Homo sapiens: one gene and its partners. The protein of the gene in region 2 purifies or fractionates together with the protein of the main gene of each other region. This does not show direct contact. Each region holds a gene or a part of one and is shown on either strand. Other genes may lie near its edges. The genes, in order: FAM234A, TMPRSS12 and FZD6.

Region 1 (3,650 bases), on a different chromosome or scaffold from region 2:
CCACATGGAGCCAGGCCCCTGGGCTTCCTGACTCCAGCACCTCGAGAGCAGAAGCAGGACCTGAGGAGCCGCAGGGCAGTCATGCTCCACGAGTGAGGCTGGCCAGGGATGTGGCAGAAACAACGTACCGCAGGGAAAGAGGATGTAGTGGGCACCTGTCCTGGTGACGTGAAGGAGGAAGCCACTTTCCCCGTCCACACCAAGGCTGCCTCTGAGGCCAATCTGGTGCCCGGTGCTGCCGGAGTAGAGGTGGCCACTAACCTGCAATGACACAGGATGACACAGGAAGAGAGGGACCTGAGCCTGGGGCTGCAAGGACACAAGGCCCAGGAAGAGAAGGACCTGAGCCTGGGGCTGCAATGACACAAGGCCCAGGAAGAGAGGGACGTGAGCCTGGGGGCGGGGCACTCTACAATGGGAGATGTGGAAGGGTAAGGGGCCCACAGGCTCTTGGTTTTGAGGAAAGACACGCTGACATCAGAGAGTCTGCCACGATGGTTGGTGCCTCCACACTGCACGGGGCACATGAGGCAGGCAGGGCAGCCCCAGTGCCTCACAGGTGCTCCCAGCCCTCAGAGCTTCACCCCCAACACTGCAACAGCACAAATGGGAAGTGTGTACTCCACCATTCTTGGGGAGGCCCCAAAGCTGCCTGGTAGAGATGGAGCCCCCTGAGTATGCTGGGTCTATGGGAGTTGGGAACGTGGGGCTCTGGGCGAGTCCCCGGCAAGTGGTCAGACCCGAATCCTGTCTGGGAAGTGGCAGCAGATGGGGAGGTAGAGCAGGGCCGTGTGGCAGGTGGCCTCGTGACTTGGGAGCAGAGCCAGGCTGGGATGTACCTCCTCCCGCTCCTGGGTGAGAACCAGCAGGTCTGGGGCCCCATCGCCGTCCACATCAGGCACCTGCAGCAGAGGGCTCAGGATGGACGCATTCCCGCTGAAGCTGCTGCTGTGGTTCCACAGGGTTTCCCCTAGAATCAAGCACACGGTCACGGAACGTGGCCCTGAGTCCCCTTCAACAGCAGCCCGGCAACTGCAAGGCCTGTGACAGGCAGGCTCCTGTTGAGGCATCACCCTCGTGAGCCCACGGCTCACTGCACACTCAGAGCAGATGCCAACAGGAGGGGAGGGCGGCACTCCTGTGCTCGTGAAGGAGCAGCACGCGGAGGTGGTGGACACACGTCCTGCCCGTGTATGGAGACTCGGTGGCAATATGCCAAACGCTGACAGCCTCATTCCTGGGAACCGCAGAGTTCCCCCTTCCTTTTCTCCTATCTGCGTGTCCTGGAACCTCTAGGGCCCATGCTGACCCTCCTGCCCGAGTGGATGAAGCCTGACCTCACCCACCTCTCGAAGCCCCTGCCTCCTGCTGGGGTTGCAGGCGTGCCCTTGGTGCCATGCAGGCCCCAGCTGAGTGGCCCCTTCATCTGCCCTCCACATAGAAGGCAAGAATGGAGGTGTGCGCCCGGAGGCAGATCTACTGACCACAGGTCCTCGTCCAACTCCTTACGCACATACAATCTCATCCAAACCTTTTTTTAAAGACAGATTCCTTGATTCTTAAAATATTTTCAGCCTGCTCTTTATTCTCCTCCATATCCTTAAAATGACAGCTTGTAAGGGAAATATGAACATTCACCAAATCTAGGCACAGAAATCTTCCAGACCGCGATGAGGTGCAAGGAGCCCACACACACACATGGCCCCGTGCACCACGCATTCTTTCCCTCGTCCTTCCACGAGGCCGGCTCCGCTGGGGCTCGGAGACCTGCACCTTCAGGCTTAGGGGCACTGACAGGCCCCGATCTCCCCTGACGGGCCGAGTGCTGGTTCATGTTCTGGGCTCGCCCTGGGCACTGCCACCACTGACACCCCAGGAGCAGCCGGGGGCCAAGCCGCTCCTCCTCTCTGCTACCCCATGGCAGGTGACATCGGACTGCCCCTGTGTGTTACAGCCCACCAGCAAGGTGTAACGGGAGGTAACAGACACAGTGCAGCTGAAGGCAGCCGAGGCGTGTGCCTTCCACACGCTTGCAGCCTCACTTGGAGGTTCTCCCCATAACCTTCCTTCCCATCCAGCCACCCTCAAGATCACAGGGCTGAGCCTCGTCGCGGCCTCCTGGCATTAGCCCTCAGGGTGAGGTGGCTCAGGTGAGAGGCCCTCAGTGAGAACCCCGCTGCCTGGCTGGCCTACCTGTGAACAAGTTGACTGCAATGAAAGAACTGGGTCTGCCCACCAGGATGCAGGCAGAAGGTGCCTCACTGCCTCTTGGCTGGGGCACAGCACACTCCACGAGGGCCACGTCTTGGGCCACAGGTCTCTCCCAGAGCGTGCTGCCGTTGGCCCCCGACACAGCAGCTGCAAAGGTGCAGGGAGAGGAAAAGCCTGTAGGGAGAGACACCGGCACCTCACTGTTGCACCATCTGGGCAGGCAGGCCGGCCAGCCCCAGCATGTGCTGTTCCAGGTCTGTTTTCCTCACACCTCTCCTAGGCCACAGCCCCTCCCGCCAGGTGGATCTCCTGTATCTTGCAGGCTCCCGGGGCTCTAATGCTGACCCCACGGGGCTCAGGGGCCAGGGCAGTGCTGGGACTGGGCTTCCAGGCCTCTTTCTGGTCTGCCAGGAAGGATGACGAGATGGGTTCCAGAAACACCACCATCTGCTTCCCCCAAACACTGAAAGCGAGAGGGTGACCCAAAATGACGATTCCTCTTTCTACAGGGAGCTCCGCCTTTTTCATATAAAATGAAATTACCTTCGTCCACACAGGATCGGCTGAAATTGTTGCTGCTGTTGGTGTTTTTATAAAGAAAAAGAACATCTTGGATCCTGTCCCCGTTTATATCATCCACAGCCAGAAAGTCATAGATAACTGAAAGAGAAAACCACAGACTATACTCCGCGGGCCATGCCTGGTTTCCAGGAACGATCAGGTCCAGCACGACCTACTTCTCTGCTACATGGAACCTGCCACTGTGAGGGCACCCAACGAGGACGGTGGCTTCTTCCTCACTAGGATGAGTAATTTCCTTCGTGAAAACCAGGGGGTGGGCAACAATGCCTAGTGTTAACCTTCAGAAAGGAACAAGCAGGACATCTGGGCATTAAGAATTGGATGTTCTGGCACCTTCTGTTCAGGGATAAATCCCTCCCTAGACCAGGGGGCATCTAGACAGTCCACACTCCATACTCGTCAGGGTTTACACTTCCTTTCATTCAAGGACTCAAGTGATAAACTTTATGCCCTAAAATCAAACACCAAAAGAGTGAAGTTGGCCGGGCAAGGTGCCTCACGCCTGTAATCCCAGCACTTTGGGAGGCCGAGGAGGGCAGATAACGAGGTCAAGAGATTGAGACCATCTTGGCCAACGTGTGAAACCCTGTCTCTACTAAAAATACAAAAAATTAGCTGGGTGTAGTAGCACGTGCCTGTAGTCCCAGCTACTCGGGAGGCTGAGGCACAAGAATCGTTTGAACCCAGGAGGCAGAGGTTGCAGTGAGCGAGATTGCACCACTGCACTCCAGCCTGGCCGACAGAGCTGGAGTCCATCTCAAAAAACAAAAACAAAAAAATAGGCCGGGCCCAGCTGCCCCCTCCGGGAGGTGAGGGGCGCCTCTGCCCGGCCACCCCTACTGGGAAGTGAGGAGCCC
Region 2 (3,750 bases):
ACAATGCAGGAGAGGAGAAAAGGCAGAGGAAATCCAGGAAGAAGACCTCTGCAGTTATTGATCCACTGCCTTTTTCATTTTATTTGGAGAGATGGGGTCTTGCTTTGTTGCCCAGGCTGGAGTACTGTGGCTATTCACAGGCATGATCTCACTACCAATCAACACAGGAATTTTGATCAACTCCATTTCCAGTCTGGGCCAGTTACCCCTCCTTAGGCAACCTGGTGGTTCCCCACTACCCGAAGGTCACCATATTGATGCCAAACTTAGTTGACCAGTTGACATAGCATACTACAGTCCAGAACTCCTGGGCTCAAGCAATCCTCCTGCCTCAGCCTCCTGAGTAGTAAAACTAAAAAATATATTGTTTAAAGCAGTGCTGTATAATAGAACTACAGGCATGTGCCACCGTGCCCAGCCCACTGCCTGTGTCACTGCTATTTGATGACTTGGCTGCATATACTTGCTTTATGAGTATGTTAAACCTCTACTATCTGTCATAGCAAGACCCGTCATCCTTATCACGTTGGCTATGGGTTTAAAAAAAGAAAAAAAAAGTCATCTTGCCTTGTTTACAAAGGCATACACAATCTGACCACATCTCACACACACAGAAATACACACACCCCAACTGTGTTTTTCTCCTCCTAATATCACCTTCCACTAAAATATCTGGGGAATAAGGACTTTGTTTCTTGTCAGCCCTCAGAGATCAGCTCATGCTGCAATTTGTTTCTCCAATATCACCTCCTCCACCCCAATTTCGGCACAGCTCTGAGACTCTGCTCCCTTCCCCACATGTTACCATGTGTAAGCCCCAAACTCATATACTCCTTTTATCTAATGCTGCCAACTGCACCAGCCTCGGAAGGATGGTATGAGCAAGGCAACTGTCCTTTTATTGACCTCTACGTTAACTCTCCACCACCTCACCAACTTCCCACAGCCCACACGGTCTTCTTATTACTGAAGGTGTTGGGTTAACAAAGGCAAAGTTCAGTATAGGTCAAGATAGGAATGACAGAACAATTTAAAACTGAACATTAGGTATCACTCTTAAAAACTCTGGGTTATGTTAAAGAAAAATTATTCAGTGATACTCATTAAAGCACAGCAAGGCAGACTTTATTCAGGACCATCCAGATAGGGATAGGGACCATGGCAATGGGATTTTGTAATGGGTAGAGGGACTGGGCTAAAATCCAAACAGAGCAGAGCCAAGGGAGAATTTACAGCCACGGAGCAGGAGAGACGTGTCAGTGGATGGAAAATTACTAAGAGGTAGCATCAGGAGTAATGGCATTCCGGCTAACCGACCTAACAGGATTCTTGCTGGACAGGCCAGGGTGATCAGACATCACCTGGGGGATAGTGGTGGATGAGGAAGCCGATCAGACCTTGAGGGTGAGGGGTTCTTTCTAAACTGACCTACCTATTCCTCGGCCGCCTCCCACACCTCCGGGCCTCACTCGCGCCTCCCCGCCAGGCCGTGCGCCCCGCGTGCCCAGGGCGGGTGGGAAGTACCTGCCGCCATCTTGCTCACCAGCCTCCAAAATGCGGCTGGGGCTCCTGAGCGTGGCGCTGTTGTTTGTGGGGAGCTCTCACTTATACTCAGACCACTACTCGCCCTCTGGAAGGCACAGGCTCGGCCCCTCGCCGGAACCGGCGGCTAGTTCCCAGCAGGCTGAGGCCGTCCGCAAGAGGCTCCGGCGGCGGAGGGAGGGAGGGGCGCATGCAGAGGGCAGTACCTGTTCGTGCCTGTCTCTGGGGAGCCTCTCTTACCTTTTCCCCACCGCTATAGTCTTTGAATTCGGGTTTCTCCTTTTCTGTTGTCCCAATGGCCTTTAACCAAAATTTTACATACCTAAGCAGTTTCTAGACCGGCTGTAATAACAGTAGTTGTAATAGTGAAATGACACATTTGTATTGTGAATCTGTATTTTCTCCTCAAAACATTCTGGGTTTTATCATCCCCATTTTATAGATTAATAAGTCAGGGGATAAAGAGTTGAAAGGGAGGGCTATTAGGTGACCATTTCATACTATAGTTGAGAAAAATTAGCCCAACAAGTGAAATGGTGAGCATTAGAATTTGCGGCTCTCGACTCACCGTTCCCAGGCTCTTTAACTGCTATTTCACACAGGGAAGAATGTGATACGTGGCCAAAAATTTTTATTTTTATATTTTTGGGGAATAGAGTTTTAAAATTAATGAATTGTGTTGACTTCATGTCTATTTGTAAGTAATCGATTATGGCATATTTGTCTTAACTCTCCAAGTTTCTTTCAAAATATGGGCGTGTCTCCGGTATGTTAGCTTGCTTTGTGTTTTTAACATAGGAATTTAAAGGATTGCATTAATATGTTCAGCTTAGGAAGTAACACATACTATAGATGCTCAGTCCAAATAATATATCATTTTTATTTTTAGATTGTGGAACAGCACCGCTTAAGGATGTGTTGCAAGGGTCTCGGATTATAGGGGGCACCGAAGCACAAGCTGGCGCATGGCCGTGGGTGGTGAGCCTGCAGATTAAATATGGCCGTGTTCTTGTTCATGTATGTGGGGGAACCCTAGTGAGAGAGAGGTGGGTCCTCACAGCTGCCCACTGCACTAAAGACGCTAGGTACGTATTCAGAACACAACTATTTTTATGCTCTTAGGGGATATTTTGAAGTGATAGAGGACCATTTAACTTCAGCCATTTTCAGCTAAGCTATGTTTGCAAATAGCCATAATGCCTTATATATAGTACAGTGTATTTGTTGAAAGGAATCCTTTATTTATTATTATTATTATTATACTTTAAGTTCTGGGGTACATGTGCAGAACGTGCAGGTTTGTTACATAGGTATACATGTCCATGGTGGTTTGCTGCACCCATCAACCCATCATCTAACTACATTAGGTATTTCTCTTAATGCTATCCCTCCCCTAGCCCCCTACCCAGGAATCCTTTATTTTTTACTTTTTTTTTTTTGAAATGGAGTGTCACTCTGTTACCCAGGCTGGAGTGCAGTGGTGCAATCTTGGCTCACTGCAACCTCCGCCTCCTGGGTTCATGCGATTCTTCTGCCTCAGCCCCCGGAGTAGCTGGAATTACAGATGCCTGCCATCATGTCCAGCTAATTTTTGTATTTTTAGTAGAAAAGGGGGTTTCACCATGTTGGCCAGGCTGGTCTTGAACTCTTAACCTCACGTGATCTGCCCGCCTCAGCCTCCCAAAGTTCTGGGATTACAGGTGTAAGCCACCATGCTCGATCATGGATCTTTTAAATTAGAGGCTGGTAAACTTCCTATAAAGGTAGTAAATATTTTACACTTTGAAGGTCATATGGTCTCTCTCACAATTGCATGAAAACCAGCACTGAAAATAAGTAATTGAATGAGTGTGGCTATAATCCAATAAAACTTTATGAACACTGAAATCTGAATTTCATATGTTTAACGTGTCATGAAATATTGTGGTTGATTCAGCCATTTAAAAATGTAGAGTAGGGCATGTTGGCTCATATTTGTTATCCCAATGCTTTGGGAAGCCAAGACGGGAGGATCACTTGAGGCCAGGAGTTTGAGACCAGCCTGGGAAATATAGCGAGACCCTGTCTCTATATTTAAAAAAATTGTTAATGTAAAAAACATGCTTTATGGACTGTATGAAAACAAGAGACATGCCAGATTTGGCCTTCACTATTAGACTCTTTGAAAAAGAGACTCTCTTTGCTTCATCTCCATTGACCCATAAAATC
Region 3 (3,750 bases), on a different chromosome or scaffold from region 2:
AATCTGAGGGAAAAAAGCCTTTACTATTCTGTTTTTCTGGAGAAAAACTACAAAAACAATGCATGTGTCTAGTTTCCTTCAGGAGACTTAACAACCTAACAAATCTGTATGGGAAGGCAGGTTCCTGTCTGTACAGGTAGCTTTCTTCTCACACTCCCTAGTAATTTGCATATCTCTAAACCAGAGACAGGTAACTAAGGCACCTAAGGCAATCTTTAGTGTCACTGTACTCCTCCCAAGTGGTTTCTTTTAACAAGTATCTTATAAAGAACATATAAGTGCTATGCTTAGAAAACAAAGTCACTTTTTAGTGACTTTGTGATAGCCTTAAAATACAGTCTACAGCAACAAAATATTCTGATAATTTATTTATTTCAGAAAAACTGTACCAAGTGAATATTACAACTACTTATAAAAACTTGTAAATTTCTTCAGTTTTAGTCCAGGCAATAAATATTACATGTTCAGTGAAGTAGAAAAATATTCAGAATTCGCATTTCTAGAAGAACTATCATACTTGATTCAGGAAAGCAAAATATTTTCTAGGTACAAGGTATTTAGAAATCATGTGTAACCATACTTCATTATATAAAATGAACCCTATTCAAACGAATCTACTAAACAGGGCCGCAAAGGTACACAAAACATAAGTCAGTAGAGGGATTTAATTTTCAAAAGGACTTTTCAAAACACAACTTGTACACAACTTGAAGAAATCGGCTCTGTTTAAAAATAGACTTATTTTTACTAGTTTATTCTAGAACAGAGCATAAACTACTATTCAATAAACGTATGAAGCACTACTCACCTCCATTTCCACCGCGGCAATACTCTGGTCATAATGACCCATCAGATTAGGGAAAAACGTCATGTTGTAGGCCATTTTCATACATCTGGGAACAGTAATTGGTTCACAGGTGAAGAGACTGTGCCCTCTTAGGAGGGGTAGAAAAATACACGTCAACAAAAATGTAAACATTTCCATTTTCTTCAAATTCCTGATTTTACCACATGGCTTGGATGAATCACTCTTTGCATCCTCAGAAGATCCCCATCCAAAGATAAAATGTTCAAATTCCTCATTTCACTATTTTACTCATTTTCAGGCTTTCCTGAAAATGAGTCCTGGGTCAATTACTGTAAAAACAAAAGGAGGGTGTATCAGCAACATTTGTCATAAACTCAAATGTGGAGTCAAAGTGCAGAGTTAAGATTTTCACCCCAGGTAACAAACACTGGAAAAACAACGGAAAATTCTGTCCTAACGAGATACTCTTCCACCTGCCTTAGCATGGAATATATCATTTGCTAAGGAAGCTGCACCTCTAGGAAACCGATGCTAGGAGGTTGGTGCTGTATGGAAGACAGGGTTAAAAAGAGGGAATGGCAAGAGTAAGATGGAGGAAAAAAGGAAAGCTGGTGATTCGGAGTAAATTATAAAGGATTAATATAAGCATACAATCTAAGGGCCCCTGTTGGAAAGCTTATTAAGTACAAGAAAACTAAGGCCCTGGGAAATTCCTTAAGACCCAAAGAGTTCTTAAACTTGTAAAAGACTCTGAAGAGTCAGTTTTTGTGGCAGTCTTCTGGGTATGTAGTTTTCTCGATTTTCGTAAGGCCAACTAGAGGGAGACTTTTAGGATTCCTCCAGTGGAGGAGCAACATTGCAGTTTTCACTGGCTAGGAGGGTGTAGTGCTGCCGTCGAAAGGAAAGTGCGCAAATCTGTCCCGGGGGAAGGGCGAAGGCAGTCCCCTTGCGGGAGGAAGGCTGTAGGCCCCGGATTACGAATTACCCGCGCCCCAACACACACTGATGCCCGGTCCGCCAGCGCCCCACACCCGGGAACCTGCCCCAGGCCTAGAGCCAGACAGCAGCGTTCCTGGCCTGCGCGGCGCCGCGGGGCCCCGGCATCGCCTTTCAGAGCCGGTTCCCGCTTCCGAGGAAACTCAGGTGCGGGCCGTCCCGCCGTTGCCTCCCCAGCACCTGCGGCTCCCGGCGCGCCTCATCCCAGCCGCGGCCCCTCGCCCCTCGAGGCCCTCCCCGCTTCCCCCGGCACCCGCCCGGCCCCTGCCCAGTCCCAGCCGTGGAAGCCTCACCTCGGGGGGCGGTCGAAGGCCGCTGTCCCTTCCCGTCCCCGTCTAACCCACCGTTCCCCCCAGGGACCTGAGACGGCTCCGGGGTTGCGTCCGGGACTGGAGCTGCCTCGAGAGCCGCACGGGGAGCGAGAGCTGAGCGATCCCGCGAGACTGCGCCGCCAGGTCGGGCGGGCAGGTCCGGGCTCGCGGCGGCGGCGGCGGCGGCGGCGGCGGCGGCGGCGGGACTGGCCCTGCGCCCGGGCACCGCCTGCGCTGCGCCGCCCGGCCTCACTCCGCGGCCCGCCAGGACCCGGCCCCGGTGAACGGGCTCGGGGTGCCGAGGTCCGGCTGCGGGGCCGGGAAGCCACCTCCACCTTGCCGTCTGTTACGACCCCCGAGGCGCAAGGCTGAGCCCCATCTCGCTATCCGGGTCCGGAGGGGTTCACCTTAGAAGGATTTTTTGAAGCTCTTGGCGCTGGCTCTAAAAGAACCCACTTCCTTGCGGATTTCAGGAGTCAAGAATCCTTAAACGGAGCCAATTTGCTTTGTAAAGCCAATTGCCCAAGTGACTTGAGTTCGAAAGGAGATACTTCCTGGACAACTGCTATAAAAACAACAACAAATACTTTTATTAATTCGGGGAGCCTGGTCACCAACTGGATGCTCAGGTAGCAGTGGGATTCCAGCCCTGGCGGGTCCCACAGTTTTATTGATACAAACCCTAATAGGAAGTTGAACTGCTGTAGAAATCAACCTAGTTTGGGGTACCAACTCTGTCATAGATATTAGATAAATTACCCTAATCTTTAAGGGGCATAGTTTCCTCACAATATAGGAATGACAATAGTTGTAATGATGGTTAACGTTAATTGAGCACTGGCTGTAAGTCAAATAGTGCCAAGTTCGTTACAAGTGTTTACACCTAACCTGTAAGGCCCTCCTATGAAACAGGCAGAATAGTATGAGAAGCAAATGAACTTGTAGAAGTACTTTGAAAAATGCAAAGTAACTTGTAGATGGAGGCTATTCTTGTCAGATAAATCATCCTGTTGCAGAAAAGGAATGTCATATTTCCATACCTAGAAGGACAACCCTGAACAACCAGAGTAAGAGTTTTGGAATCTGTGGGGAAAGACGAATTTGGAGTGGGGAATTCCTCCCCAGTTTTATCAAAAGCTTACTGATGTTGGGAGACAGGTAGTGATGAAGAAATATTAACATCATTAAGAGCTGGATAGTTGATGTATTGCAGAATAAATTTCTATGTAGGAAGAATATTTTCCCCTAAATTTCTAATTTTCTACATTGGAAGACTATTTCTCTCCAGTTTCTACGAACTTAATGAGATCTTTTTGTGATCAGGCTCTAGTGACTACCAGGCAGTGAAGTATCACTAAAAGTATCATTTAAAAACGATACTTTTTAAAATATCGTTTGAAAACGATACTTTTAAAGTATCATTTGAAAACGATAGTTTTGAAATTCAAGTGAATACTTGTTCCATTATTTGGAAGGAAAAATTGTAGTAAGTTGATTTATACAGAAGTAAATAAAGCCTGTTTTATTTTTCATTGTATTTAATTATATAGTGAGCAGTGATGAACTAGAATGATTTTTTTTTTGTCAGGATGGATTTGGAATACTTAGGCAATCATCTATATCATCGCTTGTCTT

The links.
Region 1: the proteins of TMPRSS12 (region 2) and FAM234A purify together in Homo sapiens (affinity purification with mass spectrometry; one large-scale study listed by BioGRID and IntAct). This does not show direct contact.
Region 3: the proteins of TMPRSS12 (region 2) and FZD6 purify together in Homo sapiens (affinity purification with mass spectrometry; 2 studies listed by BioGRID and IntAct, with this or other methods). This does not show direct contact.

What each region holds. Positions count from the first base shown.
Region 1 is NC_000016.10:258,704-262,353, reverse strand, and holds part of FAM234A (protein FAM234A), read right to left. Parts: intron 2,872-3,650; coding exon 2,755-2,871; intron 2,386-2,754; coding exon 2,194-2,385; intron 971-2,193; coding exon 840-970; intron 262-839; coding exon 129-261; intron 1-128.
Region 2 is NC_000012.12:50,841,411-50,845,160, forward strand, and holds the start of TMPRSS12 (transmembrane protease serine 12 precursor), read left to right. Parts: upstream 1-1,515; 5' UTR 1,516-1,554; coding exon 1,555-1,741; intron 1,742-2,431; coding exon 2,432-2,627; intron 2,628-3,750. UniProt on the Homo sapiens protein: Required for male fertility. Plays a critical role in sperm capacitation and acrosome reactions during fertilization, and also plays a role in the regulation of proteins involved in spermatogenesis.
Region 3 is NC_000008.11:103,297,343-103,301,092, reverse strand, and holds the start of FZD6 (frizzled-6 isoform a precursor), read right to left. Parts: upstream 2,196-3,750; 5' UTR 2,098-2,195; intron 1,138-2,097; 5' UTR 986-1,137; coding exon 809-985; intron 1-808. UniProt on the Homo sapiens protein: Receptor for Wnt proteins.